Homo sapiens: one gene and its partners. The protein of the gene in region 1 purifies or fractionates together with the protein of each later gene. This does not show direct contact. Each region holds a gene or a part of one and is shown in the gene's direction. Other genes may lie near its edges.

Region 1 (2,501 bases):
CCCAGGGAAGACCCACAGGTCTTTAATATGTATACAGAAAGAGAGTAATATATTTCACCTCCCTCACCGTTCCTAGACCGAACTCTGTGGGATTCAGTATTCCTTTATTGGAATATCTGTCATGAAAACCAGAACTAAGGAACGTGCCAGAGAAGTGTGCCTGCTCCAAAGGAGCGGTCACCGTGGTTAAGGGAATGTTCTTTCCTCAGAGCCTCCAGGAAGCCAAGACTCTGAGGGTGCTGCCACCATTCTAAGCATAAGCATGACTTCCCCTTTCCTTTCACTTATCAACTGACAAGTAGAGGGGAGAGCTTGGGAGCAAAGGGAAATAAACCAAAGGGCCCCTTTAGCCCCAGTTCCCTATCTTGAGCAAGTCTGGTCATGGTGGAGGGGACCTAGTGCAGTAGCAAATCTTAGGACAGGAATAATGACCTCACTCTTCAGGTACCTGTTAGCACCGATGGCAATAGGACAGGGAAATGTCCTTTGAAACCCTTTTCTGCCTTTGGAAAAGGGTTAATTCTTCAAAGTCTTCAAGCCAGTTGAGATCCTGGATTTCACCTTTGTTGCTGTTAATTTGTGTACAGAGATAAACAAATGTATCCCTTCCTTTTCATAATTTTATATATGAAATTGGGAAATGCTTCATTCTGATGAAAAGTGTCCAGTGAGTCACCATCCCTGTTTATATTTTGACTTATAGCTAAAGTGCCTTATCTTTTTTTCCTTTTTAAACCTTTTTGAGTTGTGAAATATATCACATTTACAGAATAGTACACAAAACAAGTATCACAGAATGATACCTGTGTAACCACTATTTAGGTCAAGAAATAGAATATTAAATGCCCTTCTGTTTTAAAAGCACATTGTCTGCTCATCAAGGCCCCAGTTAGCCAGAATCCTCAGCTTCTAACCAATGATCATCTTTGCCAGACATCCCAGGAACAGCAACAGCAACAGTGACTCAGACGAGGACGAACAACGAAAGAAATGTGCCTCATCAGAGAGTGATTCCGATGAGAACCAGAACAAGTCTGGCAGCGAGGCCGGCAGTCCCCGGAGGCCACGAAGACAGCGGTCAGATCAGGACTCAGACAGTGACCAGCCATCCAGAAAGAGAAGGCCCTCCGGTTCTGAGCAGTCTGACAATGAATCTGTGCAGTCAGGGAGAAGCCACTCAGGAGTTTCTGAGAACGACTCTCGCCCAGCTTCTCCAAGTGCCGAATCAGATCACGAATCGGAGAGAGGATCTGATAATGAGGGTTCTGGCCAAGGCTCTGGAAATGAATCGGAACCAGAGGGATCCAACAATGAGGCCTCAGATAGAGGCTCAGAACATGGGTCAGATGATAGTGACTAGGTTTTATTTCATCAATAAGCTTCATCTCTGGAGGAAACTTTTTTAATATATGAAAGCTGTGATAAAAATGTTTCAGATGTTTAGTCAATTGTGAAATTTTTCTTAAGGCAATTTTCTTTTCTATCAGTTTGTATATTACTAAGCCCCAAGAGACATTTCCTGTGCTAGAGTCCAATATTTGAGTCTCTCGTGCAAATGAGACTATTCTTTGTGGTACAATTCCACCTATCATATGTGAAAACTGCAGTAAAAATAAACCCAGATGCTAAATCATTCCTACAAAGGTTTGACTGAAACTGTGGCAGATGTCTCATCTTCTTTATATGTTAAGCAGCATACTCTTCTGATTTTTATTGCAATCTTTTACCAAGTGGTGCACAAACTTGGTATTGATGTCTTTATTCCATTTTGAGTTTAGATTGAGAATATTTTTATTTTCTGAAGGCAGAGATATCTACTGTATAATTGCACCAAAGTACATTTGAAAGGAAGGTTTTCAATAGTGTAATACTGCAGCGATGTAGATAAAATCACAAATGTATAATGTGTTAGGTTGAATAAGGTGTGGAAAATGCTTTTCTGTTAGTAGAATGCAAAAACCTACCTAAGCCACATAATAATAAAATTCTTTTACCAACTTTTATGGGTAACTTCGTGTCTTTTTTTGTTCGATATATTTGTGCATGGCAGTGTAGCATAAATTATGCAAATATTTGAAAAATCCTACATTAAGCCTCAAGACTTTTATAATTCTTACAGATTCGTGGAGTGTTTATTTTAAAGATGCAAGAAAACTAAGGTACCAGCATGTATTTTTATTTTCAGTAATTCAGTAATTAACACTAATATTTTTATGTAGTGGTTTGTAAGAGCTTTAATTATTGTAGTCAACAAGTATTATTAAATGTGCTATATTAGCCATTGAGGTGAGAATGCAGAGATAAAGTTCCCTTCTTGTCTTCAAAAATTGAGTAAAGATAAATTTGTTGTTCCTGTGGTGTGAGAAATAGGGTGATGATGTTTGCACAGGTTGTGGGAGCAAAAAGGAGGTTGGAAGAAGCAGTGAAGACAAGGTTTCTTGAAGGACAGGAGTCCTGAGATGACTCAGCCTGAGCCAGGGCTCCTGCCTATACCTCAGGAT
Region 2 (3,500 bases), about 57 Mb from region 1:
CTGCAGAACTCCATCCCCCACAGAGCTCCCGGCCCACAGTCCACCATTCACGTTACGTGCCTTGCATTTTTGTGGTTTCTGCAGAGATTCTTACAAAGGGTGAGAGAGGCACAGGCGTGGTTTGCCTTTGACCACTGGCAGAAGTCTGAAGGTGAGAGTAGAATGGAGAAGGACCCAGGAGAGTGCGGAGTTGAGGGAGATAAATATTTGCAGGCTACTTAGCAAAACACCCAGAGCTGACCTTTGTCGAGTACTTTCTGTGGGCACAACAGCAAATGTTTTATGCAGCGTGATGTCATTTAATCCTCACAATGACACCAGGTGCCATTAGCATCCCCATTTCACAGATGAGGAAACCGAGGCAGAGAAGGTGAGTGATTTGCCCAAGGTCCCACAACCAGTAAGAGGCAGAGCCCGGAGACAGGCCTGATGGTGGCTCGAGAGGCTCGTTCTTGGCTCCTGGGTCTCAGTCCTGCTCCCGTGACGAGCCATCCCCTATGGGGACCATGGTGCCTGTCCTGTGTGCGGGCCACTGCCCAGCTTCTCCCAATCAGAGCAGGAAGATGGTGGGTTCAGCCTGGCCCCACAATCACTCCAGCTGAGGGCTGGCCTGGGGCTCCTGACCAGGCTCTCAGTAGCACACTGGTCCAGCAGGGCCATCCTGCAGACCGGAGCAGGTCCCGCCCTCAAGGTGGCCACTTAACAATCACCCACAGCCTTGCGCTCACCGATGCTGGGCCCTGGGCTCAGAACCGACTGTGTGGTCTCATCATTAGCTGGCAGGTGCCATCATTACACCGGTAACATGAGAGGCTTCAAGCACTAGGTCTCAAATAAGTAGGCACAGAGGGGCCTGCCTCCCAGTCTAATGAGGGGGAAATAAGGGAGATGTGGACAGGGTTGGGAGGTGGGTAGAGTGTAACCAGACATTTATCACATGGCACAACTCAGAACGCTGGGGAGCAGAGTCAAGGGGCCACTGTGACAGTGGATGAGGGCATAATCTGGGTGGGCTGCCTGGAGGAAGCATCAGCCAAGCTGAGATCTGGAGGAAAGGGACTCGGAGAGGGAAGGAGGAAAGGGTCACCACGGGTCCTTGGCACCAGGCCGAGGAACGAGTGCGTCAGAGTGCTCCTCCGATGAACTTCAAGTAAACAGGCAGGGCTCGGGGGAATGTCTAGGCCCCTACCCTGCCTGCCAGCTCTGGCTGGCACCAGCACGGAGGCAGGAACGCCCTCTCCCCCGCCCTGATCCTCTCCCCCACAGCTGTTTCTGCCTCCCAGCACCACAGCCCCGGCAGGGTGGGCAGCAGGGCCTCCAGGAGGCCCGAGGTGTTCTCCCCCTCTTCCTGAGGAAGCTGAGGCACAGGGAGAAGAGGCTATTGCCCACTGGCCTGGCCTCCCTGGGCAGTGCCCCCAGGCTGGGGACAGAGGAAGACGGAGAATTCTGTGTCTGGAGTGCTCCAAGGTGGTGGCCATGGTGGCAGTGAGTCACCCCCTCTACTCATCAAGCTCCTGCTTACACCATTCAGACTGGCAGGGGTGAGGCTGCCCCGCCTCCAGGAGGGGCATCAGGGCAGGGCAGAGGCCATGGCTTGGGGTTAATTTCTGTGCGGCAGGAAGAAGCATGGCGCTCTGCCTGCCTGCTCACCCTCGGGGGCTGTGGTGGAGCAGCTGTCCCCAAGCCCACACCCAGTCCTGCAGCCGCCTCCAGGTCCATGGCAGAGGGGAGTGGTGCGAGGGTCTTCATGTGTGTCTGGGAGTGCTCACTGTTGGGTGAAAGGGGTTGCAGGCAGCCTCAGTCCCTGTGGGGTCATCTGAGTGGGTCCCTGTGTGTGTATAAGGTAGAGGTGTCTGCAAGCCCCTGTGGGTGCAGGCAGGTCAGGGGTGCCCAGACCCTGGGGCGGCTGGGTGGTGCCCATGAAGGAGGGGCAGCCCTGGCCACCCAGTTCATGCCACCCCATCTGGCAGGATGGACCCCCTTGGGGACACGCTGCGGCGACTGCGGGAGGCCTTCCACGCGGGGCGCACGCGGCCAGCTGAGTTCCGGGCTGCGCAGCTCCAAGGCCTGGGCCGCTTCCTGCAAGAAAACAAGCAGCTTCTGCACGACGCACTGGCCCAGGACCTGCACAAGGTGGGCTGGGGTTGGGGGTATGAGAGGGTGCACTGGGGCAGGGGGGCATGGAGGGCAGCTGGGACAGCAGGGGATGAAGACACCTGCGCCCTCCATGAAGCGGGGCTAAAAGCAGCTCCTCCCCTAGGCCAGAGCCACCCTTGCACATTCATCCAGTCACTTATTTCTGTATTCATGCAGCAACTATTTGCTGAGCACCTACTATGTGCCAGGTACTGTTCTAGGCTCTGGGGATATAGCAGAGAATAAAACACAGTTCCCATGCCTACGAAGATGACCTTCTATCGGAGACAATAAAACAGCAAATAAATAATTGCACAGCAAGGCCGGGCATGGTGGCTCACACCTGTAGTCCCAGCACTTTGGGAGGCCGAGGTGGGCGGATCGCTTGAGGCCAGGAGTTCAAGACCATCCTGGCCAACATGGCGAAACCCCGTCTCTACTAACAATACAAAAATTAGCTGGATGTGGTGGTGGGCACCTGTAATCCCAGCTACTCAGGAGGCTGAGGCATGAGAATCGCTTGAACCTGGGAGGTGGAGGTTGCAGTGAGCCAAGGTCACACCACTGCACTCCAGCTTGGGCAACACAGTGAGACTCCATCTCAAAAATAATAATAAAGATAATAATTACACAGCATATTGGGTTGAAATATGTGCCCTGGAGACACACCCAGGGTGAAGGGGAGAGAGGGGGCCAGGATCAGGGTGCTGTTGTATATGTGGGGGTCAGGGAAGGTTTCTCTGAGAAGGGGGCTTTAGAGCAGAGACGTGAAGATGGAGGGGAGGCTCCCCATGGATGCTGGGGAGATGGCAGCGGGCACAGCACGTGCAAAGGCCCTGAGGCAGGAGGTGCTGGGTGTTTCTGCTTGAGGAGCAGCAAGGAGGCCAGCATAGCTGTCGGGGGTGGGAGAGGAAGAAACAGCAAAGATGAGGTCTGGGGTATGGGCCACACTATGTAGGGCCTCGGAGGCCGTGAGGCCTTGGCCTTCTCTCTGGGTACAGCAGGCATCATGGCCTCTGTCTAGACCCTGAAGGCTTGGGGCCTCAGCCCCTCCCAATCCCAGTGGCAGCCAAGGCAGAACCCCAAGAAACACACTTCCCCCAACCCCTCACCCATCAGGGCCCATGCACCTGCCTGCCCCTGCCTCAGGACACCTGCCCCTGCCTCAGGACACCACCTGCCCCTGCCTCAGCACATCTGCCCCAGGGGCTGCCCCCGGCTCCTATTCTCTGGACAAAATATCTCCTCCCTTTGCCTTGAAGGCTGTAGTGTTCAGACCTTCCCCCAGCCCATTGGGCTCCCTGGGGACTGACTCCCCCGCCACCACTGAGCTTCTGCCACCGGCCGCCTGCCGGCCTTCATGA
Region 3 (3,500 bases), on another chromosome or scaffold:
GCCTGGTATTACTCAAAAAGAAGGGCTGTTCATTTCCAGCAGGTGTTAAGAGCTGAGTAAGGCCCATAGCATGGAAATACGATCATCTCTGCCCCTACAGAGTTACATATACCTTTTGGTTGTTTGAAATTACTTATTTGGTAGCTCTGTTTGATGTAACAAGAAACAGACTCCTAGGCCAAATTGAAACGCCTTTTGTATTATCTCTACTTAATTTCTTCTACCCCCAGTTGATTCTCTCTTACCTTAATCACATTATTATGAATAATTGAAGAGCTGATGATGCATTTTTCAGCCTAAGGTTTTCTGATGAGGACTAAAGCATCTGATCAAATTTCATGTTCATGATTTCAACTTCACAGCCAGTATCTATTCACTCAAAAGCTTTATTAAATCTCTTCTTTCGGCCGGGTGTGGTGGCTCATGCCTGTAATCCCAGCACTTTGGGAGGCTGCGGTGGGGGGATCGCTTGAAGCCAGGAGTTCGAGACCAGCCTGGCCAACGTGGCGAAGAAACCTAATCTCTATGGAAGATACAAAAATTAGCTGGGCGTGGTGTCATGCGTCTGTAGTCTCAGCTACTCAGGAGGCTAAGGCAGGGGAATCACTTGAACCCAGGAGGTGGAGGTTGCAGTGAGCTGAGATTGTGCCACTGCACTCCAGCCTGGGCAACAGAGAGAGACTCTGTCTTAAAATAAATAAATCTCTTCTTTTTTCATCTTGAGTCCCTTCTTCTCTCCAAATATCAGGCCCTCTTTTACTGTCTCCCTTAATTTTCACATTTTATTTGGTCCAGATAGTCTTGTATCTTAAAAAACAGTAATTCTCAAAATTTGAGTATTCTGCTTCTAAATGCCAGAGTCCCTGAAGAGTCTTAATTCTTCAATAAATGTATGGTAGAATAATGCCATTGCTAAACTGTATAAAAACAGGATTTTAAAACTAAAAATAAAACCACATTAATCTTGAATTTGCTAAAATTATGTTTTTGATTAGCTTGTTTTATGATACCTGGCCTACTGGGCCTCCCAAATTGCTGGGATTACAGGCGTGAGCCACCACACACGACTGAAAGAAGAGATTTAATAAAGCTTTTGAGTGAGGCCAGGTGCAGTGGCTCACGCCTGTAACTCTAGCACTTCAGGAGGCTGAAGTGGGAGGATCATGAGGTCAGGAGTTCAAGACCAGCCTGACCAACATGGTGAAACCTCCTCTCTACTGAAAATACAAAAACTAGCCTTGCATGGTGGCGCACACTTGTAATCCCAGCTACTCAGGAGGCTGAGGCAGGAGAATTGCTTGAACCCGGGAGGTGGAGGGTGCAGTGAGCCGAGATCACGCCACTGCACTTTAGCCTGGGCGACGGAGCGACACTCTGTCTCAAAAAAAAAAAAAAAAAAAAAAAAAAAAAAAAAAAAAAAAAAAAAAAAAAAAAAAAAAGAAAAATCGTTAATAATGTGTGTATTTGGTGTTTTCTGTCAACAGGAAGAAGGTAGATAATGACTATAATGCCCTTCGAGAAAGACTCAGCACCTTGCCTGATAAATTGTCTTATAATATAATGGTATGTTTGGTGTGTTTCTTTTAAAGTAATAGTTGTTTCTTGTAAACATATTAACTATGTGTCGGTTCACAGAATGTCAGGCTGATGGACTGTGTCCAAGGTAACTATGTAGCAAGGAAGATTTGTTTTGTTTTACTTTATAAGAACACAGTAATTGTAGTAATTGTTGGTATTTACCTTTTTTTTTCAGAATATATATGGTGACACAAATGACATAAATATTAGCACAAAATTGGACATATTTCAAATGGAAACTTACTATATAAAAAATGTAATTATGACAGAAATATGGTACTAAGTCGTTTCTTGTTAGCCAGAGCAGGAATAGGCCATAATGTTTTGTAATTCACAGAATTAAACCTTAGGACATTGATTTTTATATAAAAACGTGCTGCTAATTTTTGTTTTAATGATCTTCACATCGACATAGTGATCTGTTCATGAGCCCTGGATTAGAGCCTTTCATTGCATGAATGTTCTTTCTTATGAAGACTTTGTTCTTTTATACTAGTCCAAGTATTTTGTATATATAGCTAGATAGATCCATTAAAGCTATTTGTTTACTAATTCCTGCTTTGCAAAAGTGTCTACTTTATTGAAAATAATTTTTAGTTTTCTTTATCAAAAGTATTTTGCATTGACAATGTTTCACTACTAGTTGCTTTCACTTAGATTTGCAAGTGAATGAAAAGTATAAACATGCCGAGACAGTACTACTTTCTTTAAGAGCTATATGTAAATATGGTGTGGATTTATTTTCCTGTTTTAACATTGATTTATGAACATAAAGCAATTTTCTTTAGATTTTCCTAGTAAAATTTTAATATAGTGTTGAATTTCTGTGAAGCTGGCATTTTATTTTTCCCAATGTATAAATAAAAAAATTCAGTTATGTAAGGCTTTTAATGCGAAGTGTTTTATAAAATGTACTTTTCAGTGTTTTATGTTTTTTCCCTTTTTTCTTTTTTTTTAAACAATAGGTACCATTTGGCCCTTTTGCCTTCATGCCAGGAAAACTTGTCCATACTAATGAAGTCACTGTTTTACTGGGGGACAACTGGTTTGCAAAGTGCTCAGCAAAGCAGGCTGTAGGTTTAGTTGAGCACCGGAAAGAACGTAGGTACCCATTTTAAATGATGTTTCTTTGTTGTATATGTATCCATTCACAGATTGCCAAGCTGAAGGGCTGTTTCTTACCAAAAGTACCTTCCGTGATCTATGAATCCAGGCTGTTTGTGATTCTGTTGAATTGTAGGTAGTTTGAGTAGAACCAACATTTGAGAATGAGCTGGAGAATGGAGCATCCGGGTTGGAAATGTCACCTACATTGGCATGTTTTCAGAAGTTACAAAGTTTCAAAGTCATTATGTGATTTTGTAGTTAGAAGTTGGGAAGACATAAAAATTGGAGTCATTTTATACCTTATAATTTTTTTTTAGTTGCTATTATAGACTTATTTTTGCACTTAATACTTTAGTACACAGAAATAATGTGTTTTCTCCTTAGTGAACTAAGAGAAATACCTGTTTACATAAGTAGACAATTCTTAAAAATGCTTTTTGGTTTGGAAAAAAAACCATATTTTCATTTGATAGAGGAGACCAGGTGTGAAAAGGTGCTACCTAAAACAGCACCCTTATCCTTTTTCAGTTGTTTGAGTTCTCTGCATCCCTTTATTAGGGCAGCTCTTGAGTTTTGTTTATCCGTGCTATTATCTGTAGGTGTATAGAAGCCTACATACACACACACAACACACACTACACATTTTGCAGTTGGATGAGCTAGCTTGGGTTCTAGCTTAGTTATATTTTAAAATTAGGTTCAGTTTATAATCTGTTGTTATTTCTGTAATACGTATTTAGATTGAGAGTATAATATCCGCCCTACCTGCTTTTTAACCTTTTAGTTAAATGTGTATTTGAAAATAAATGATGGGA
Region 4 (3,500 bases), on another chromosome or scaffold:
TGGCACCCATCTGTAATCCCAGCTACTTGGGAGGCTGAGGCAGGAAAATCGCTTGAACCCAGGAGGTGGAGGTTGCAGTGAGCTGAGATGGCACCATTGCACTCCATCCTGGGTGACGGAGTGAGTGAGACTCCATCTCAAAAAAATAAAAATAAAAAGAGCCATACCTGCATCAGCCACAAACCTTAACAGCCAGGACTCTGACCGTTAAACCCTTAGTCCAAGAAGCAGACTGGAGGAGAAGGTAACTGAGGTTGCTTTCTCCATCCCCACCCCATGCTGTCACAAGGCACTGCAACAGAGCAACCCAGGCCACAATGATAGCTTATGACTCCTGGCCTTCAGCTCTTATTAGACACCTCATTGAGAGCATCCAAGCTTGCTGTGTGAGTTGGAGCAAGTGTCTTCCTTTTCCTGAACCTCAGCATTTCGTGTAGCAAATGACAGCTTTTGAAACGAGGGCCCAGGGTCCTTAGGCTTTTCCAAGCTGATTTTGTCATTTCACTGCCTCCGCCTGTGGCCAGCTTCGGGTTGGGCAACTTTGTTTTGTTGAAATCAGTAGGGTTCCCCTTTGCTCTCCTCTGTTCTGAGAGTGACAACCTGAGGCTTTCAAAGCAGAAATAGGAAGTGCCAGCTCCAGCACTGTGGGTAGGGGACAAGGGGTCCTCTCTCTGAAGAGCCTCGTGGTTTGTTTTTTCCTCTTCCTGCTGTGGGGGAGATGGGAGGTGGCGTGCTCAGGCAGCACCTGGAACAGCTCCGGCTCCCAGGCTTCTTCCACGCCTGATGCCTCACTCGGTGCGGGAGGTAGGCAGGGTGGCACTTGAGGGCACGTGATCCTAGAATCTGCTGTTCCAGGAAAGCAGCCCATTCTCCGTTCATTGAGCAGACAGCGATTGGGTACTTCTGGGCCACAGCAGCCAGTCCCTGCCCTCCTCATGGGACCTATGTGCTATTGCGGCCAGGGAACCACGGCAAGTAAGCAGACCAGCAAGAGTTCAGGCTGACGTGTGTTTCAGAAGATACACATGGGCCCTGTGTCCCCAGTCCCCCAAAGCGCATAGATCCCACAAAGAGGGCCGGGAGAGCACAAACACAGAAGGAAGAGCAAATGCCCGGAGCCCCGAGTTGGGAACAAGCTCAGCATGACCTAGAAACTGAAAGCAGGCAAGTGGCTGGCAGACCCACAGCCTGGGCAAGCAGGACACCCTGGGGCAGGCTGGACCCACGTGGCCTTCCTCTGTCCCTTCCTCCTCCCTGGCCAGCTTACCTCACACTTGCCCACACACCCAGCTTCCTTCCTGGGGGCCCTGATGGCACCTCAGAGTTACCAAGTGGGCCACTTCCTGCCTTCTCAGGACTCCCACCCCTACCAGAAAGGGAGCCGAGGTACTTACTGCCCCCTTCCAGAAAGCTCTGGCCTTGTAGACTAGTGTGCGCCTGGAACAGCATCTTTCCCCACCTGATGGGACCTCGATGATGCTGGAGAGCTTCACAGGGAGTGAGGGGAAGAGACTGGGATTGATAGTCTGCGGGGTCCTCACTTCTCTGGGCCTTAGTTTCCCCACCTGGATCACAAGGGCCATGGGCTTGATGGGCGTTCAGGACGCATCCCAATGATGGGCCTGTGGGAGGGATGACCCAGCGGCCCCCGCCTCCCCTTTCCTCAGAACATTTCTGGGCTGACTTCCCCATTGGTCTGATAAGATTCTTGCTGTGTCATGATGATGTTGGCACTCCCCCAAAGCCCCGGTGACTCATGAGCCCCCGGGTATAGCAGGGAGGCCCTTTTGTTGGTTTTTCAGCTGAACTAACTCAGCAGCCCCCAGGTTCTCTGGCCCCAGTGGCCAGGAACCAGCTGGGCCCCTGCCAAGGCCCAGGGCTCCACCCAGGGAGTCTGGGCAGGTCCTTAACCCCAGTGACCCTTGGGGATGGGATGGCCCACCCCCGCTGGCCCTCCAGCAGGCATCGTGCTCTACCATGAAACCCTCATGCCAAGACAAGGGCTGCAGCGATTTCGGTTTATAAAACAGACAGGTCATGGCCCAGGTCCCTTTGCCCTGGCCTAGCCAGATGTTGGTGGCTAGAGATCTTCATCATGCCCTGCTTCTACTAAGTCACCTTGTGTCCTTGGGCAGATCCCTCCCCTGCTGTGGTCCTCAGGAAAGAGGAGGGCGTGGGGAAGATGAGAAGCTCCCAACTGCTTTTCACTAAGGACCCCTTGAATTGCCCCCACCCACATGGCACGAGTAGACTCTTGACCAAGCTGTCAGGTTTCCCGATGTCTTCCCATGTTTGTTCCTCCAGAAAGTCCCACTAGAGCATCGCAGCCAGCTGGGAGGGCAGGGCTACCCCTGAGTCCTGAGGAGAGCAGCTCAGTCCGGCTCAGCTCAGCTTAGCTCCCTGTCACCATGGGAGAGAGCGGCCTGCCTTACCCCACCCCTACTGTCCGTCTTACCTCACCTCGCCTCTCAGGTGACTTGGAGCCCAGCAGACGGTCGGTCGGTTGCAGGGCCTGAGCTGAAACAAGGTGAGCCGGTTCAATCTCTAGTTAATCCCAAAGGGAGCAGCAGGAACAAACGGCCTGGAGCGTGGGGTTGCTGTGACTCAGCAGACCAGTCCCCTGCCACCAGTACCTTTCTGGAGTCTGTCCCGATGCCTCCCAGTCTTCCGGAATTTGGTCATGAGCAAACATGACCTGCTTTGAGTGAGGCTTAGAGGTATTTGCAGGCTGTGGTTCTTTCCGTTTATTTCAGGGTCCAGTTAGTTCCCAGTAAGCTGACCCTTTCTGTGTGGGGCCAGCCGTGAGTTGATGTGACATGGGCAACGTTCCCCTCCCCAGCCCCACTGATGGCAGGTGCTGTGAGGAGCTGAGTAGAGGAGCTCCTACCCCAGGGCGAGGGGTTGTCTGCTGGACTTTGAAGGGTGCAGCAGTGAGAGGTCCGTGTCGCTGTAGTCCTGGCACCGAGCTCACCTGAGGAGCATCAGAAGTGGAGCAGGGCCCCTGAAGAGCGCAAGCACACAAGGCACCCACACCATAGCAGTTGCCCTCCTGGAAGCCCTGTGGTGGCTTCCTAACTGCCTGGCTCTGGGTGAGGGCGTTTGACCTGGTGGCATGGCCCCCATTCTGTAATGGTTTGTAGAAATGGACCCATCCATGGTTGCAGTGCCTGATTGCTTCGAAGAGCATGTGTTTTTTTTTTTTTTTTTTCGTGACATGGAGTCTTGCTGTCACCCAGGCTGGAGTTTGGTGGCGCAATCTTGGCTCACTGCAACCTCCGTCTCCTGGATTCAAGTGATTCTCCTGCCTTAGCCTCCTGAGTAGCTGGGATTCCAGGTGCCTGCCACCACATCCAGCTAATTTTTGTTTTTTCTTTTTTTTGAGATGGAGTCTTGCTCTTTCACCAGGCTGGAGTACAGTGGCGCAATCTTGGCTCACTGCAATCTCCACCTGCGAGGTTCAAGCAATTCCCCTGCCTCAGCCTCCCGAGTAGCTGGGACTA
Region 5 (3,500 bases), on another chromosome or scaffold:
GGCTCAAGCAGTCCTCCTGCCGTAGCCTCCCAAGTAACTGGGACCACAGGCTTGCCAACATATCTGGTAATTTTTAAAATTTTTTTTGTGAAGATGGGGTCTCCCTGTGTTGTCCAGCCTGGTCTCAAACTCCAGGGTTCAAGGGATCCTTCCGCCTCCGCCTTCTAAAATGTTGGGATTACAGTCATGAGCCGCCATTCCTGGCATTAATTTTGAAGTAGTTTATAAAATATGGTCACAGCAAAAGAAGTAAATGTAAGTTACTTAGATTTTCCAAAAGCCTTTGATAAAATTCCAGTCAGCAGTTGGAGGGGAAAGCACATTATGTAATAATAACTGGGAAAATGACTTTTAAGAACATGAAAAATAGGCTATGCATGGTGGCTCATTCTTATGTATAATCACAGCACCTTGGGAGGTTCAGGTGGGAGGACTGATTGAGCCCAGGAGTTGGAGACCAGCCTGGGCAACACGGTGAGACCCCGTTTCTACAAAAAAAAAAAAAAAGGTAAAAAAAATTTTACAAAGAACAGGAAGAATAAAATTATACTAATAAAGAAATTTTATTTTTTTGTACAGAATTATAAATAGTGATCTTTTCAGTGTAGCTATTTGAAATGGTCCTATTTAACATTATTATAAATGACTTGGAATTGAATGCATAGTGATATCCCAGTTCTAGGAAGGACTGTATTTACTTAATAAAACGCCAAGGTAATAGGGATAAACTTGATGAGTACTTCATATGGATTGATTTTTTTTTTTTTGAGATGGAGTTTCGCTCTTGTTGCCCAGGATGGAGTGCAATGGCACGATCTTGGCCCTTTGCAACCTCCGCCTCGCAGATTCAAGCAATCCTCTTTCCTCAGCCTCCCAAGTAGCTGGGATTACATGCATGTGCCACCACACCTGGCTAATTTTTGTATTTTTAGTAGAGACGAGGTTTCACCACGTTGGCCAGGCTGGTTTTGAACTCCTGACCTCAGGTGATCTGCCCGCCTCAGCCTCCCAAAGTGTTGGGATTACAGGTGTGAGCCACTGCACCGGCTGTATACTTCAAATGGATTTGTGAGTCAAGTATTTCCCTGCTTTTTTTTTTTTTTTTTTTTTTTATTTTTTTTTTTTTTTAAGGAAAAGATTATCCTGCTGGGCACGGTGGCTTAAGCCTATAATCCCACAACTTTAGGAGGCTGAGGCGGGCGGATCACCTGAGGTCGGGAGTTTGAGACCAACATGGAGAAACCCCATCTCTACTAATACAAAAATTAGCCAGGCGTGGAGTTTCATGCCTGTAATCCCAGCTACTCAGGAGGCTGAGGCAATCACTTGAACTGGGGAGGCCGAGGTTGTGGTGAGCCGAGATCGCTATTGCACTTCAGCCTAGGCAACAAGAGCGAAACTCCATCTCAAAAAGAAAAAGATTATGCTTTTGAGGATGCTTATTTCGTATCCTTAGAATGGTGGGTTTTCAGATTTATTATTACTTTTTTAATGCTGTAGAAAGAGAGTTTATGAAGCTAGACATAGCTCCTGAAATGTAAGAAACTGGCAGAAACAGTATTGGGAGTAACTGCACAGGAAACTTTTTGGATTTGTGAATTAAGATTTTTGTGGGCCAGGTGCCGTGGCTCAACGCCTGTAATCCCAGCACTTTGGGAGGCCAAGATGGGCGGATCACGAGGTCAGCAGATCAAGACCATCCTGGCTAACATGGTGAAACCCCGTCTCTACTAAAAATACAAAAAAAATTAGCCGGGCGTGGCGGTGGGCGCCTGTAGTCCCAGCTACTCGGGAGGCTGAGACAGGAGAATGGCATGAACCCAGGAGGTGGAGCTTGCAGTGAGCCGAGATCGTGCCACTGCACTCCAGCCTGGGCGACAGAATGAGACTCCGTCTCAAAACAAAAAGAAAAAGATTTTTGCTGATGATCCACCCAGGTTGGCTTTCTTCTGCCCTTAGCCCCTGTACCTCTAGTCATGCCCTGGAGCTTTGCTCTGGCTCTGATTGCAAGGAGTATATCCTTCTTATTAAAAGAGAGAGAAGCCTGTTAGCATTTAACGAGGCTATCTGATAGCACCAGAATAGAAGGTAGTGAGTAGTTAAAAAGTGAAATTTGAAGAGGAAATTCCTAGCCATTTTGCCAGTTCTGAAGGTTTTCTATAATTCTTCCCTTTTATTATGATAAAGACTTGAAATTTGGGGTGAAGTGAATCTCAAATCAAAAAAAGAAACTCTCAAATCAGTTTGTCCACTCTTCATGTATAGGTTAATATATATTTTCCCCTCCTTTTAACTTTTATTTATTTATATATTTATTTATTTATTTTTGAGATGGAGTCTCACTCTGTCACCCAGGCTGGAGTGCAATGGCGCCATCTGAGCTCACTGCAACCTCCACCTCCCAGGTTCAAGCGATTCTCCTGTCTCAACCTCCCAAGTAGCTGGGACTACAGGCACCCGCCACCACACCCAGCTAATTTTTGTATTTTTAGTATAGACAGGGTTTCACTATGTTGGCCAGGCTTGGCTTCAACTGTTGACCTTATGATCTGCCCGCCTCATCCTTCCAGAGTGCTGGGATTACAGGTGTGAGCCACCGCGTCCAGCCTTATCTTTTAAGTTATATCTTTTTTTATTTTTTTGAGACCTGGAATCTCTCTCTTTCCCCCAGGCTGGAGTGCAGTGGCTGCGCGATCTCAGCTCACTGCAACCTCCGCCTCCTGGGTTCCAGCAATTCTCCTGTCTCAGCCTCCCGAGTAGCTGGGATTACAGGCGCCTGCCACCACACCCAGCTGATTTTTGTATTTTTAGTAGAGACGGGGTTTCACCATCTTGGCCAGCCTGGTCTTGAATTCCTGACCTCACGATCCACCCGCCTTGGCCTACCAAGTGCTGGAATTATAGCCATGAGCCACTGTGCCAGGCCATATCTTTTTATTTCTTATCTGTTAAGCTTAACAAGGACAGAGATTCCCTTTTCTGTATATTCTCTAAAGCAGTTTCAGTAAACTTATTGAATGAATGGATGATCTGGTAGTTATCCAATATAGAGATATTCTTTCAAACATTTTTATATATATTTATTTTTTAGAGACGGGAGATCTCGCTCTGTTGCCCAGGCTGGTCTCAAACTCCTGGCCTCAAGCTGTCTTCCCACCTCAGTCTCCCAAAGTGCTGGGATTGCAGGCATGGGCCACTGCACCTGGCTAGTATAGGGATATTCTTTTGGATGTCATGACCTTTTTCAAAATCCACTGATTAATTTGAAGTTGTTGATCCTTTTTAGAGGATTGATTTTAGGCACATTTTGGAATCAACAGATTCCAGATTTAATATCACCTTTTAACATACTAATTCTAAGTTTAGCTGTGATGAATCCAAATTTAAATGTGAGAGGACTTAATACATTAAATGTGGCCTAATAATCAATGTGGCATTGATATGTTATATATCCTGTCAAGTCCTCAGGCATTTTTGTATGTGTGTGTGTGTTTTTCTTA
Region 6 (3,500 bases), on another chromosome or scaffold:
AGCAGTGACTCTGACTCCGGATCTGAATCAGGCAGTCAGTCAGAGTCTGAGTCAGACACTTCCCGAGAAAACAAAGTTCAAGCAAAACCACCGAAAGTTGATGGAGCTGAGGTAATCAATAAAATACCCAATGAAAGGTAGATTGCTTGTATTACTTTGGGAAAATTTAGAGGATTGGTTTATACCATTCTTAATCTAGCTTTTAGAGAAGACAACATTTTAAATTAAAATTTACTTTTAGTGATTCTCACATTCATGGTGGTACACCTGTGGACTAATTGGCTTGGAATAGATGCATTTTCGAACTAGAAAACACAAAGTGTAAATTACACACAGGCAAATAAAACGTTTTCTGCCTCTTAGGCAGAAATTGAGTTTCATAAATATCCATTGTGTCATAGATACAAATTTAAGACATTGTGAGGTCTACTTGTTAACCTTACCGTGTTATGATCTCTACTTTCAAGAGCTTCAAAGGAGATACTTTATTGCTACTAGCAGAATAATTTAATGGAACTCAGATTCCTCAAAGATAATGATGGAATAGGGTAAGGGGCTATTCTGTTTGGAAAAAACTACAAGAGATACAAAAACTTGTCTATACTTCGTGGTAGTATACAGTGTTACTCAGAGTACCAGTCTGTGATGAGATAAGATGCTTGAGGGCCAGAATATAAATCGACACACAGATTCCTTCATAGAGAAAAATGTTGCTACCGGCCCCCCGCTCAAATCTGAGCTAAAACAATGTGCCTAGTGACATCGTTGACGTATATTCTGACTCAGCCTCTTCACCTCACACTGATAAAATAGGTAACCACACTATGAGTAGCACTAATACAAATAATACTCTTAGCATCAAGAGGATATTGATTAATATTGTCTGTGGAACTCAACACACCATTTTTTTTTATACATAACTAGAGCTCAGCATTTTATTTAACTATATTGCAATGATAATTGTGTTACATATAGGTAAGGAATATAGTCTTTATTACTTTGAGGCAGTAAAGATGGTGGTATAGTTTTTCAATAAATTAACCTTTTTTTGCAGTTTTCTTAATACTTCTTCATTCACTGGTTTATATTTCTATTATAGTTTTGGAAATCTAGTCCTAGTATTCTGGCCGTTCAGAGATCTGCAATCCTCAAGAAGCAGCAACAGCAGCAGCAGCAACAACAACATCAAGCCTCATCTAATAGCGGATCAGAAGAGGTGCATTTTCATCATGAGCTATTATTTTAAAAGTGGACATGCTGCTGAATCAGTTAACTAGTATTTGTGAAATTATTAAAAATAATAAGTGCTTTGAAAGAATAAGTAGGAAATACTTTAAGTGTATATATCAAGAATCTTGAAATACAGATTTTGCATTATCCAGTAATTCCAATTTTAGGGATTAATCCAAAATAAGCAGTGGGACATTTGTGTGCATTTGCTCATTACAGCAAAATTAGAAATAAACTAAATGTGAACTCTGTGGGAAATAATTAAATGTGATATGCACCTACACGCATATACATGTATGAATGAAGGAATATTATATCATTAAATCATATTTGTACGAAATAATAACAGAAATCTCAACATAATATTTTTGAAAGAGTAGATGGCCACTATACACAATGTAGTTTGTGTGTGTGTGCAAGCATGCATACATGTATGTTTGCACAAAAACATTCAGGAAAAATTATAACAAAAAGTAATGGTGAAGAAAAAATTCAAAATTTGGCATGTTGGCACCTAGGATTTCTTGTTTTGGCTATACTAGGCAACAATAATGGTCTCCAGTGAGGGTAGATTTTAAGGTTTCATACAAAGTGCTGACATTTTGCTATTTACTTAATTTCACTGGCTATATTAATTTGCAATAAAAATGTTATTACTTTCAGCTAGTTAACATAAATAAAACTACATTGAAAAAAGGCTTCACAAGTGCTGTTATTTGTAAAGTGAATGTTAAATAGTATAGCAAATAAAAATTTAATATGGTTAAATTCTAATCATTAGTGGATGATACTGACTTTATTTCTTTTCTACAGGATTCCTCTAGCAGTGAAGATTCCGATGACTCATCAAGTGAGGTCAAAAGGAAAAAGCATAAAGAGTATGTCATTTTGTTCAACTGACTACTTCATTTTAGAAAAATCCTGATTATTTCATATTTCTTTCTTTATGAAAATTGTTGCCAAAAGGAGACTCTTCTAAATTCTTAGTTCATGGCATTTTATGAAGTTAATTTACACCATTACACAATTTAAAGATAAATCTTTAACATTTATCTTTCTGTGACCACCTGAGGGTATTATGCCATTTCTTTATCTCCTGTAACTCCCCCTATATATTTTTAAACTTTAATGATCTCCCTAGTTGTAATATCAGAAAATCTTAATAACTTGGGAATATAGGAGTATAGGGATGACAGGATGACTGATTTTGGATGGTTCTTATAATTATATTAATAGCTATCCTTACTATTCAGTTGCATGTGAAATTTACTTCATACCGTAGAACTCATTTTAGAAACTCACTGTAATTTCCTAAAGATCTGGACCCAGAAAGTATTAAGAATACTTCAGATTCTCAATCCATGTTTATTTTAATGATTTGGAAACATTATTCCATTTTCTTGTCTTTTATTTTCCTATTTGCCTTTGATATTCTGCATATTAGATTTGTTACTTATTTTTCCCAAAAAAAGATTCATGCATTTTTAATGCGAAGATTTGTATCTTTTATTAGTCTGTTCTATCTTTTATTCTGAAAATTCAATCATTTATCTTTGGATTTTTTTTCCTTTCTCTTTCTACAAATCTCTCTGGTCCTCCTATTAATAGATGTATATTGGATCATCCAGTTTTTTTTCCATTATAAAAATACACAACGGAAACTTTTTTTCGGTGTGCAAGCCCTGAAAAGATCTCAAAGTAAAAAATTTGCTTCTACTATGTTTTTATCATAAGCAGATTTTATCATATATGCTTGTTTATGTAGCCTTCATCATAGTTACAATTGGTGCAAAAGATACAGAGCAATGAAGCAGAAGCATAGCTGAAATAGGATATAGTGTATTTGTAAGAATTCAATGTGTGCCTTTCATTTGAACTTCTTATGATAGCAAAATATTAACATCCATTATTTTTCTCTACATGTTGATTGGAATGAAATAGACTTAATAGACTAAAAATAATAATACAGGTAAGGTACTCAGATTGAATATTTGAGATGGTACTACTGTTGCTCTTTTTTTTTTTTTTAATTTTTCTATGTTTCTTAATGAACGTGCACTATTTAAAAAATCAGTTTAAACAGGTGTTTTTCAAAATCACAACCTCTCGAGGATTAAAATGGCATGGATTAGTATCTCTTTTTTGAGAGGGCAAGTAGAATAATTTTATGAGATTTTCATCTATAATGAAAATTAAAATATCATTTATTTGCTGTTCACTGACGTATAACTAAGTGATTAGCAAAACTAGAGTTGTGAGAGAAGTCTATG
Region 7 (4,179 bases), on another chromosome or scaffold:
AAGAACTGTTTTCGTTTGAATCAAATTTCTGGACATCAGCTAATCATTCAGAGGTGGGGTGTTCCATTATCATGAAGTGGCTTCTAGGGTCTGGACAGCAGAGGAAGCAGGCACGGTGGTCCTTAAGGCCAGGGAGGCTGCTGTCCCCAGGGGACATGTGCCCACCTGTGTGTTTTGGGGTCCTTGCAGGACAGTTTTCACTGCTCACCAGCTGGAAGAGTTGGAGAAGGCATTCAGCGAGGCCCACTACCCTGATGTGTATGCCCGAGAAATGCTGGCTGTGAAAACTGAGCTCCCCGAAGACCGGATACAGGTGTCTGGGGTCCCTTTTCTCCGCTCCAAAGATACCACAGAGAACGTGTCATTCCCACATTCAGTGAGCCAATCAGCAGTCCCTTCTCTATAGCCAACACGCTCCCTTTGCATAGAAACTGAGGGTCCCTTAGCTGAAGGCACCACAAGAGCTTGCCCCTATGACCCTCATGCCTTTTTTCATTTTATTATTATTTAGTATCAAATCATTCTTTAAAATCACATGATAATGTGTGCTGCAACTAGAAACTATAAAGATATGTCAATGAAAAAAAAAAAAAAGAGACTACCTCTCCATCTCAAACCCTGAAAGAAATCAACACAAATGCCTGAGGAGACCTTTCTCTACTTTGTGGAGTATATTATCTGCCCCTGAATATGTATGTGCATATACATATCTACATGCATATATACACACACTCACATGCATACATAGAATTTTCCTCTTGGTTTTATCAGAAGATATGTCACTAACTCTTTTTTTAACAGCTAAACCGTATTTCATAATAGTCCTTTATTAACATAATGTTTTTAATGAGAAATATCACCAGCAACCCAATAGCCTAAGCTCGGAAGGAGCCAGTGCCCCAGTGAGCTCATTCCAATTAATGAGAAAAAGCAGGAAACACTGTAGTTGACCTCTTCACACAATGTGGGAAAAGGGAGTTTGATTCTTTAGTTTTTTTCATTCCTGACTCTATGGAAACTTCAGTGGACGTGGTCACAAGTGTCCCTACTGCGTTGAATGCCCGTGAGTCCGGACCGCACGTGGGCGCTGCTGGGGGCTCCTGGGCGCTCTCCCTGAGGGCGGCTGGTTGGCCCTCGGGAGCTATTTCCTTCAGAAATAGCATGGGATCATGCTCGGGAGAGAAGATCCGAGCCCTGGGACGCCGCCTCCGCTCCTCCAGGCGCCCCTCTTCACTGTCTCTTCTGTGTGCCTTCTGCTTCTCCTGCCTCCAACCAGGTCTGGTTTCAAAACCGCAGGGCCAAATGGCGCAAGCGGGAGAAGCGCTGGGGCGGCAGCAGCGTGATGGCCGAGTACGGGCTGTACGGGGCCATGGTGCGCCACTGCATCCCGCTGCCAGACTCCGTGCTCAACTCCGCCGAGGGCGGCCTGCTGGGCTCCTGCGCGCCCTGGCTCCTGGGTAAGGAAGGGCCCCCGGGATCGCACGGCTCGAGGTGTTGTAGGAGGTGGGGGAATCCCAGGGTGTCCCCACCGAGGCAGCCATTTCCAAAGCAAAGCAACGTCAGTTTACTGAGATTCAGGTCCAGAACCGTTCTTATTATTTTTAATTAATAACAAAGCTTGCAGCAACTGGATGGTTGCCTCATTTTTCACAGAGACTGTCTAGGCTGTGTGGAAGTCTCACCGGGCTATGCATGCTAAATATGTATTTGGGATTTAAGGGTGAAATGACATCATTGCATTAACAGCATCCAAGTGTTGAATGCTGTTAGAATTTTTAGAAACCATACAATTTAGGGCACTTGGTAATAGGAAACAGGGCAGTGCTGAGCAGCGACCCCTGGGGACAGTGAGCCCCTCCATCTGAGTCAGGAGGGCTGGCCCCGGGCTTGGTTCTGCCATGAACAACCTGCCGAGTGGCTTTTCTGTCCCTTAGATTTTTGGTGCTCAAAGAGTCTCCGCTGCTGAGACCCAGCACTCTCAGGATGCTCCACCCTTGTTGCCCTGTTTGCTGTCGCCAGAAACCAACAGGCAGGGATCACAGATTGTGGGAATGAGTCACAGATGAGTACCTCCGGGCACGGGGTAATTAGTTAGGAGGATCATGGTGGCATTTTAGGTTTAGATGGAGGAAGTTTTTTGCTCAGCGAACAGTTTTTGAACAGCTACCAAGCAGCCCTATCCTGGGCACTGGAGGTTCCAATCATAGATATGTCCTGACTTTGCTCTCAAGGACTGAAACACTAGAGGGAGCATTGTAGGCAGTGACCCAAACTGGCTCATCTGAAATTGCACAAACAGGTGGGGGAGGGCACTTACTGGCATCTGCGAGACCGCAGCCTAGGGGAAAGTGGGCCCAATGCCAATCACTGTGTCATCCTAAACACCTTTGCTGGATGTGACCCGGGGTCAGACACCTGCTTTAAACCCCTAAGGTGGGAGTTACCTACCTGCCTCTCCTGTAGGCCCCAGAGATAGGCACTGACAAGGACAATTCTAGTGGGATTTAGAGAACAATAAGAAGGAAATTTACTTCATTGCTGAATTTAAATTTTTATTTTTATTTTTTCCTTTTTATTTTTTTTTTTACAAGGGATGCATAAAAAATCCATGGGGATGATAAGGAAGCCAGGAAGTGAAGATAAGTTGGCAGGACTCTGGGGCTCTGACCACTTCAAAGAAGGTTCTAGCCAGAGTGAGTCAGGATCACAGAGAGGCTCAGATAAAGTGAGCCCTGAGAATGGCTTGGAAGATGTGGCTATTGACCTCTCCAGCTCTGCCCGGCAGGAGACCAAGAAAGTGCACCCTGGGGCTGGTGCTCAAGGAGGCTCCAACTCCACGGCACTGGAGGGGCCCCAGCCAGGGAAGGTGGGAGCCACATGAGACCCACAGGTCCCACTGTCAAAGGCTGAAAATGTGCATATTCCTCACTGGCATTTTCCAAAAGACAAAAATTGTCCAAGACATATACTCTCAGTTTGATTTTCTTCTGACAATGTCAAGATAAAATGCAATGCCACTTGCTTTAAGAGGACAGATGAGTGACCTAGGGAAAATTCTATTTCATTCTAGAATGGAAACGGTTCCTTAATGGCACTTTAACCAGTTAACTTGGTGCAAAACTTTTGATTCTCTTTTGTAGCTTGAGCAGGGAGGATCCGAAGTTCAAAAATGATTTCACTGCTGGGCATCATTTGAGATGTGTGGTTCAATGTACTGTATAGATGAATAGGTTAGGTCTGATGTCCTCATTCTCAATTAGGAAATATAAAATTGTTTAATATCCAGAAGAATCTGATATCATCATAGTGAAGACTCCATACAGACACATGAATGAATTATATTGTCTTTACCTTGAACTTGGCCTTGGATATTTCAATTTTCTTGTTAGGGAGTAATTTTGTGTTTTCTTGAGTGTCACTTGATAGGCTATGCATATTGGAATTCAAAGAAACCCATACTCTAGTCGTTTCTGCATTTCCTTTAAAAATAGCATGGGATCATATTTAAACAATTGTTGGATAGCTGGAAACAGTGTTTTTAGGTCAGACCAGGCTTTTGGTCTTTCAAAATTTGTGATTGAAAGCACTTTAGTGACTTGGATTTTGTAAATCTTTCCTTTCCTGCGTTTCCTTTGCCATTTATTTATTCTTTAAAAATAAACATTTTGTGGTGTGTTTACTTTTCAAGGCACTCCTCTATTACACACTTGTACATCTCCACTATCTCTGATCCCAGCCAGGCTCTCCCTTCACCCCTTCTCAATCTGGGGACATGTGACATGTTTTATTCTTCAGGCTGCAGCTCTTACCATGTGTTGCCTTGTCAACTCCTCTGGGGCAGCAGCTGTGTCTGATACACTCTTTGGAGTTCAGAGGCCAGAAAGATACCTTCTAGTTGATGGGAAAATATGGTGCTTCCTGAAGAAGGAAGGGCAGTACAAGGAAAGTGTGGAACTGCTCATTGTGAGGGCTTTCTCTGGGAACTGGCCCAGTGATCTGTCAGGCTAGGCTTGGTGCTCCCATCTCTGCAGGTGAGAAAACAGAAGCTCTCTCCCTTTGGCCTATTTTTCTCATCCTATGTTAGTTCCATACTCTTGGGAAAATTAAACATCACCAGTTCCTTTCTGTAGCAACAGAAAATGATAAGCCCTATGTTCTTGTATTAATTCTGGCTAACAG

The links.
Region 2: the proteins of CTR9 (region 1) and ALDH3B1 purify together in Homo sapiens (affinity purification with mass spectrometry; one large-scale study listed by BioGRID and IntAct). This does not show direct contact.
Region 3: the proteins of CTR9 (region 1) and URI1 purify together in Homo sapiens (co-immunoprecipitation; one study listed by IntAct). This does not show direct contact.
Region 4: the proteins of CTR9 (region 1) and G6PD purify together in Homo sapiens (affinity purification with mass spectrometry; one large-scale study listed by BioGRID and IntAct). This does not show direct contact.
Region 5: the proteins of CTR9 (region 1) and CCNT1 purify together in Homo sapiens (co-immunoprecipitation; 2 studies listed by BioGRID and IntAct, with this or other methods). This does not show direct contact.
Region 6: the proteins of CTR9 (region 1) and CHD1 fractionate together in Homo sapiens (co-fractionation; one large-scale study listed by BioGRID). This does not show direct contact.
Region 7: the proteins of CTR9 (region 1) and VSX1 purify together in Homo sapiens (co-immunoprecipitation; one large-scale study listed by IntAct). This does not show direct contact.

What each region holds. Positions count from the first base shown.
Region 1 is NC_000011.10:10,777,746-10,780,246, forward strand, and holds the end of CTR9 (RNA polymerase-associated protein CTR9 homolog), read left to right. Parts: intron 1-933; coding exon 934-1,360; 3' UTR 1,361-2,001; downstream 2,002-2,501. UniProt on the Homo sapiens protein: Component of the PAF1 complex (PAF1C) which has multiple functions during transcription by RNA polymerase II and is implicated in regulation of development and maintenance of embryonic stem cell pluripotency.
Region 2 is NC_000011.10:68,013,327-68,016,826, forward strand, and holds part of ALDH3B1 (aldehyde dehydrogenase family 3 member B1), read left to right. Parts: intron 1-1,970; 5' UTR 1,971-1,971; coding exon 1,972-2,133; intron 2,134-3,500. UniProt on the Homo sapiens protein: Oxidizes medium and long chain saturated and unsaturated fatty aldehydes generated in the plasma membrane into non-toxic fatty acids. May have a protective role against the cytotoxicity induced by lipid peroxidation.
Region 3 is NC_000019.10:29,983,739-29,987,238, forward strand, and holds part of URI1 (unconventional prefoldin RPB5 interactor 1), read left to right. Parts: intron 1-1,484; coding exon 1,485-1,563; intron 1,564-2,543; coding exon 2,544-2,679; intron 2,680-3,500. UniProt on the Homo sapiens protein: Involved in gene transcription regulation. Acts as a transcriptional repressor in concert with the corepressor UXT to regulate androgen receptor (AR) transcription.
Region 4 is NC_000023.11:154,540,347-154,543,846, reverse strand, and holds part of G6PD (glucose-6-phosphate 1-dehydrogenase), read left to right. Parts: intron 1-1,394; coding exon of another isoform or gene 1,395-1,583; exon of another isoform or gene 1,584-1,635; intron 1,636-2,455; exon of another isoform or gene 2,456-2,609; intron 2,610-3,500. Other genes in the region: IKBKG (NF-kappa-B essential modulator), read right to left, coding at 1,395-1,583. UniProt on the Homo sapiens protein: Catalyzes the rate-limiting step of the oxidative pentose-phosphate pathway, which represents a route for the dissimilation of carbohydrates besides glycolysis.
Region 5 is NC_000012.12:48,710,208-48,713,707, reverse strand, and holds part of CCNT1 (cyclin-T1), read left to right. Parts: intron 1-1,131; exon of another isoform or gene 1,132-1,457; coding exon of another isoform or gene 1,458-1,460; intron 1,461-3,500. UniProt on the Homo sapiens protein: Regulatory subunit of the cyclin-dependent kinase pair (CDK9/cyclin-T1) complex, also called positive transcription elongation factor B (P-TEFb), which facilitates the transition from abortive to productive elongation by phosphorylating the CTD (C-terminal domain) of the large subunit of RNA polymerase II (RNA Pol II).
Region 6 is NC_000005.10:98,901,508-98,905,007, reverse strand, and holds part of CHD1 (chromodomain-helicase-DNA-binding protein 1), read left to right. Parts: coding exon 1-111; intron 112-1,099; coding exon 1,100-1,216; intron 1,217-2,043; coding exon 2,044-2,108; intron 2,109-3,500. UniProt on the Homo sapiens protein: ATP-dependent chromatin-remodeling factor which functions as substrate recognition component of the transcription regulatory histone acetylation (HAT) complex SAGA. Regulates polymerase II transcription.
Region 7 is NC_000020.11:25,074,963-25,079,141, reverse strand, and holds the end of VSX1 (visual system homeobox 1), read left to right. Parts: intron 1-189; coding exon 190-313; coding exon of another isoform or gene 314-406; exon of another isoform or gene 407-599; intron 600-1,024; exon of another isoform or gene 1,025-1,276; coding exon 1,277-1,457; intron 1,458-2,591; coding exon 2,592-2,881; 3' UTR 2,882-3,679; downstream 3,680-4,179. UniProt on the Homo sapiens protein: Binds to the 37-bp core of the locus control region (LCR) of the red/green visual pigment gene cluster. May regulate the activity of the LCR and the cone opsin genes at earlier stages of development. Dispensable in early retinal development.